Regions from separate parts of the Homo sapiens genome. Here region 2 is linked to region 1. Evidence: fine-mapped expression QTL. Tissue or cell type: esophagus mucosa. Region 1 holds a variant in brackets; the other region holds the start of a gene. All regions are shown on one strand. Distances are between the middles of the regions.

Region 1 (2,755 bases):
GAGACTGGAGACCCAGAGAGAAAGTGAAGGACTAAAAGACAGTCATAGGGTGGGAGTTTGCTCTCCTCTGTTTTGTTCTGGGTTTTTTTGTTTGTTTGTGCGCTCTGTCTGACCGCTTTTCTTTTTTTTCTTTTTCTTTCTTTTTTTTTTTTTTTTTTTTGAGATGGAGTCTTGCTCTGCCGCCCAGGCTGGAGTGCGGTGGCACAATCTCGGCTCACTGCAAGCTCCGCCTCCCACGTTCAAGGGATTCTCCTGCCTCAGCCTCCCGAGCAGCTGGGATTACAGGCATGCACCACCACACTCAGCTAATTTTTGTATTTTTAGTAGAGATGGGGTTTCACCATATTGACCAGGCTGGTCTTGAACTCCTGGCGTCAAGTGACTTGCCCGCCTCGGCCTCCCAAAGTGTTGGGATTACAGGCGTGAGCCACCGCGCCTGGCCCTGACTGCTTTTCTCTTGGTTTGTTTCTCAATCCCCCTTCCTCTGAGCCGAATTCCCTTTTTGTTCTCATTTTCTCTCTCTGTCCCCTCTCTCTCTCCTTCTTTCTCTCCTTCCATTCCTCCTAGATGAAGCAAAAACTCAGATAAACCAGCACAGAGGCCAGGTATGGTGGCTCACACCTGTAATCCCGGCACTTTGGGAAGCCAAGGCAGGCAGGTTGCTTGAGGCCAGGAGTTCAAGACCAGCCTGGCCCACATGGTGAAACCCCGTCTCTACTAAAAATACAAAAATTAGCCGGACATGGTGGCACGTGCCTGTAATCCCAGGTACTCAAGAGGTGGAGGTTGCAGTGAGCGGAGATCACAGCCCTGCACTCCAGCCTGGGTGACAGAGCGAGACTCCATCTCAAAACGAAAAACAAAAAACAGCACAAAGTTCCCTTGTCCTGTGACTCATTCTCTCTCTCTCTTTCTACCATTTCTCCTTCCCTGTGTCTTTTTTTTTTCTCTCTGTGGGTTTTATTTAAGCAATAGAAGTTCTTAGCAAAGAAAAACTTTATGGAATTAGATTGATCCACTTCATATGTACATATATGAACTCAGTTCAGAAACTCTCTTCTACCCCTGCCTGATCACCTATTTGGAAGTCTGTTCCTTCAACTCTTCTTCTCTTTCTGGGACTCTTTCTAGCTTGGGCTTCCTGCCCCTCCCGTCCACTCTCCTGCTTTCACAGCCTCTCCTTCCCCCTGCCCCTCCCCTGCACTGCATGGGGATGGGCCCCAGGTGTCCAAGGTCTCCCCACC[C/A]TCCTTTGTCACTGGAGTCAGGATTAGAACCCAGCTCCCTAGTCACCTTGAGTCATCAGTCCTGGGGCTGCTGACGGGCTTGCAGAGGAGAGAGGGAGTGGGGCTGGGTCTTCCCACCCTGGGTCCTTTCCTCCTTCCCCACTCCGTTTAGCTGTAAAGCTCAATTAAGTGTGATTAGCTGAGAAGAGTTTCTGCAGAATTAGAGCACGCCCCACCCCTGTCTTCGTGGTCCCCTTCCCTTAACCCGGAAACTGGATGGGCCAGGACAAAGAGAGTTAAGAGCTTTGTCAGTGGTCTGTCTGGAGCGACAGATGGAAGGAAAGGGACCGGTTGAGCAACATGACAGGTGGCTGAGGAGCCAGGTGCAGAGTGGTAGAGTTGGCTGGCGGAGTGGCCAGCACATGAGAAGACAGGCAGGTAGGTGGACGGAGAGATAGCAGCGACGAGGACAGGCCAAACAGTGACAGCCACGTAGAGGATCTGGCAGACAAAGAGACAAGGTGAGAAGGAGGTAGGCGACTGCCAATGAGGGAGTGACACACAGGGGAGCAGGTAGAGAGAGGACAAGCAGGTCATCCCCTTGGTGACCTTCAAAGAGAAGCAGAGAGGGCAGAGGTGGGGGGCACAGGGAAAGGGTGACCTCTGAGATTCCCCTTTTCCCCCAGACTTTGGAAGTGACCCACCATGGGGCTCAGCATCTTTTTGCTCCTGTGTGTTCTTGGTGAGTTCTCCCGGAGCAGGGAGAGGGCAGGACTGCGACTGGATCCCTTCACCCCCATGAGGAGGCCCCACCACCCTCCCCATCTCAGCTCTGGCCCCCAGCCTGGTGGTGAGGAGGAGAGGGGCTTTCTCTGTGCCTCCATTTACCTGCAGCTCTCAGGGTACTGCTCACCTCGGTCTCCCCTATTTTTTGATCCCTCTTCCCTTCTGTCCCTCTCTGAATCTCTGTCTCTCCATTTCCCTCCTATGTGTAAGCATCTTTCTCCCTGGGTGTCTTTGATGTTTCATGGTCTTTTTCTATCACTGGGTCTCTCTCTCTTTCTCTCTCTTTCTCGTCTCTCTTTCTCCTCTCTCTCTCCTGCCTGTTTCTCTCTCTCACTCTGTGTGTCTCTCCATCTCTGTATCTTTTCTTCCTCTCTCTGACCCATGCCCCTGTCTGTCTCCAGGGCTCAGCCAGGCAGCCACACCGAAGATTTTCAATGGCACTGAGTGTGGGCGTAACTCACAGCCGTGGCAGGTGGGGCTGTTTGAGGGCACCAGCCTGCGCTGCGGGGGTGTCCTTATTGACCACAGGTGGGTCCTCACAGCGGCTCACTGCAGCGGCAGGTAAGTCCCTTCCTGGGGTGGGCGAAGGGAGGACTATGGGAAGGCAAGCGCTGGGGGTAGGATCACAAGGGAGGGTGGTGCCCACTGGGAAGAAGCTGATCCTGCAACAAGAGAGTCTGAGGTTAGACCAGGAGTGGAACTTCCTTAGCAGTGGGCCTGGGGTGGTGCTGGGCAGGGTGAGGTAT
Region 2 (2,608 bases), 30 kb before region 1:
AGGCCATTTCTGGAAAATGTTGCTTTCTCAGGTCGCATCTCTGCCCCCATCCAAGTCCGAGGGAGCTGATTTTCTATCCACCCAGCTGATGATTTCCTTCTTGTGTCCGGTGGTTGGCGGGAGCAGGGAGGCAGGATGATGGGATAATTGTGGGTGTCCTTGTGTCTTTCAAAAGAAAAAGGGTTGAGATGAGACTGGGAATTGGAACCTGGATGTGTTGAGAGCTAAACCTGAGATGAGGTTGGAGATGGGACTGGGGTTGAGGAACAGGCTGGAGTACTTGGTATGGTTAGGGATGGATAGGGAGGTGGGAATCTGATAGAACACGGCCATCTGGGGGCTGACTGCCTATTAAGAATTATGCATGGGGTTGGAGAAGAGGTTAGAAAACTGGGTGCAGAATGGGTTGAAGTTAGGGATGGGCATGGAACTCAGCGGGGTAGGGGGAAGGAAATGGGCTTTCCCCTTACCCTTTTTTGGGTCCTGAGGCCTGAAAGTTCACAGTGGGTTCAACTCTGCCTTGGGCGGGGTCAGACCTAGGTCCCAGCACGTCCTGGAAGCTCCGCCCCAAGCAGAGGGCCAAGCCCAGGTCGGGGGTGCCTGGAGACATCCCGCTGAGCCACTGGGGGTGGAGAGGGGGAGGCCAGGGACCAGGAAATGCTGAGTGAGCTGGGGGAGGGAGTTCAGGGGTTAAAAGCCATGGTTCGGGGCTGAAGTTCTAGACAGCTGGCGGCTGACGCTCCTCGTGGGCCCCTCACTCAGGTAGGGTCTGCCTGGGGCGGGGGCGGGGAGCGGAGGAGGGCAGGGAGGGGAGAGAAGAGGGGATAGGAAGGATGGGGAAAGCAGAAGGGCAGCTGAGTCAGGGAGAGGGAGAGTGAAGCTAGAGTCTCAGATCTAGAGAGAAACCTGCAGAGACGGAGAGAGGCGAAGGGCGCGGACAGATAAGAACTTGGGCTAATACCAAGCGTGTGGACAGACCCAGAGGGGTAGAATGGAAGGCAGACTCTGGAGGAAAAGGGCGAGAGTGCACCGACCACCCAGCTCGCCAGAGGGCAGGGGAGGAGGGACGGCTTCCTGGGGTGAGGGGCTGCACGCCGGAGCCCCAGGAGGTTGCACACTGTTCCTCCCACCTCGCCACTGCACCCCCACCAAGGATGGAATTGGAGGCGGGGGGCAGATTCCAGGGTCAGGGCTGTCAAGAGTGAATGAGGCGAGGAGACATTCAGGAGCAGAGAGGTTTCAGACGCGGAGGTTCCGGGCACGCCCTCAACACCCCCTTCACCTTCTCCTCAGGCCCCGCCCGCCCTGCCCTCCCCTCCCGATCCCGGAGCCATGTGGCCCCTGGCCCTAGTGATCGCCTCCCTGACCTTGGCCTTGTCAGGAGGTAAGAATGCGCGGGGGTGGAGGCGCGGCGGCCATTCGGGACAATGGTAGGAGGGGTCAGGCCGGAGGGGGAGGGGGCGTGGGAGCCGCGAGCTCCGCCCCCCGCCCACTCGGGGCCGGGTCCAGTGGGGACAGCTCAGAGCTCTTCCTGCTTGTCCCTGGGTGACCTGGTTTCCCGGCTGAGGTTGGCCCTCCGACCCCAGACCCTTCACCTCCCAAAATACCCTCGCAGCAGCCCCTCCCGCGTTCAAGGCTTCCTGTCCTCTCTGGAAAGCTGAAAGACATGGGTTCGCGTCCTGACGCTGCCGCTTTGAGCCAGTAGCCTAGCAGCTGCTTTGTGCCTAAATTGTTTTCATCTGGAAAATGGGCTTAATCTATAAGTGCTTACCAGAGAAGGTCACTGTGAATATTGAAACGAGGTAATGCGTCGAGCCTTCAGTATGTCGCAGGTAGAAGGGACTTGAAAGTTAGCCACTTAGCCGTTATTACTTTATTAGTAGTATTCCTTTTTTTTTTTTTTTTTTTTTTTGAGATGGAACCTTGCTCTGTCTCCCAGGCTGGAAGGCAGTGGCACGATCTTGGCTTACTGAAACCTCCGCCTCCCGGGTTGAAGCGATTCTCCTGCCTCAGCCTCCCGAGTAGCTGGGATTACAGGCGCCCGCCACCACGCCCAACTAATTTTTGTATTTTCAGCAGAGACGGGGTTTCGCCATGTTGGTTAGGCTGGTCTCGAACTTCTAACTTCAAGTAGCCCGCGTCAGCCTCCCAAAGTGCCAGGATTACAGGCATGAGCCACCGAGCCCGGCCTCTAGTATTCTGTCTTCATACTCAGCCCCTTCCAGAACCTTCTAGATTGTTATTTTAATCCTTGGGTTGACCCCAAACCTATGTGACCTCACCCCAAATTGGTAGTCCTTAAGATCCTTATGGATCTTTCCCATCTTTCCCTGCCGTTGTAGGCAGGTTCTCTGGAAACCCCGTTCATGAATCATTTATTCATTCAACAAACAGCTATTAAACACCGGCCACTGTGCTGGGTGCTGTACAAGCAGAGACACAGTCCCTGCTCTCAGCACCTGGAGTCTAGCGGGGACAGACGCAGATGTTATTCAAACAATTATCCAAATAATTAGTTAATAATTATCTTGACATGAGGTGAAGACTTCAAGGAGCCAAGCCAGGGGCCTAGAGATGTAATGGCGGCTTCCCGACCAGAGGCCTTCCC

Evidence for each region. PIP is the estimated chance that this variant, and not a neighbour inherited with it, causes the effect.
Region 2: it holds the start of KLK13, and the variant in region 1 is fine-mapped to the expression of KLK13 in esophagus mucosa (GTEx, PIP above 0.99).

The regions. Positions count from the first base shown.
Region 1 is chr19:51,033,795-51,036,549 of GRCh38, reverse strand. KLK12 (kallikrein related peptidase 12) reads left to right here and starts at 1,548. Exons shown (of 6, transcript NM_001370125.1): 1 at 1,548-1,744; 2 at 1,910-1,965; 3 at 2,411-2,570. The coding sequence starts at 1,929. The variant C/A (reference allele first, on the strand shown) is at 1,245.
Region 2 is chr19:51,063,792-51,066,399 of GRCh38, reverse strand. KLK13 (kallikrein related peptidase 13) reads left to right here and starts at 1,308. Exons shown (of 5, transcript NM_015596.3): 1 at 1,308-1,384. The coding sequence starts at 1,333.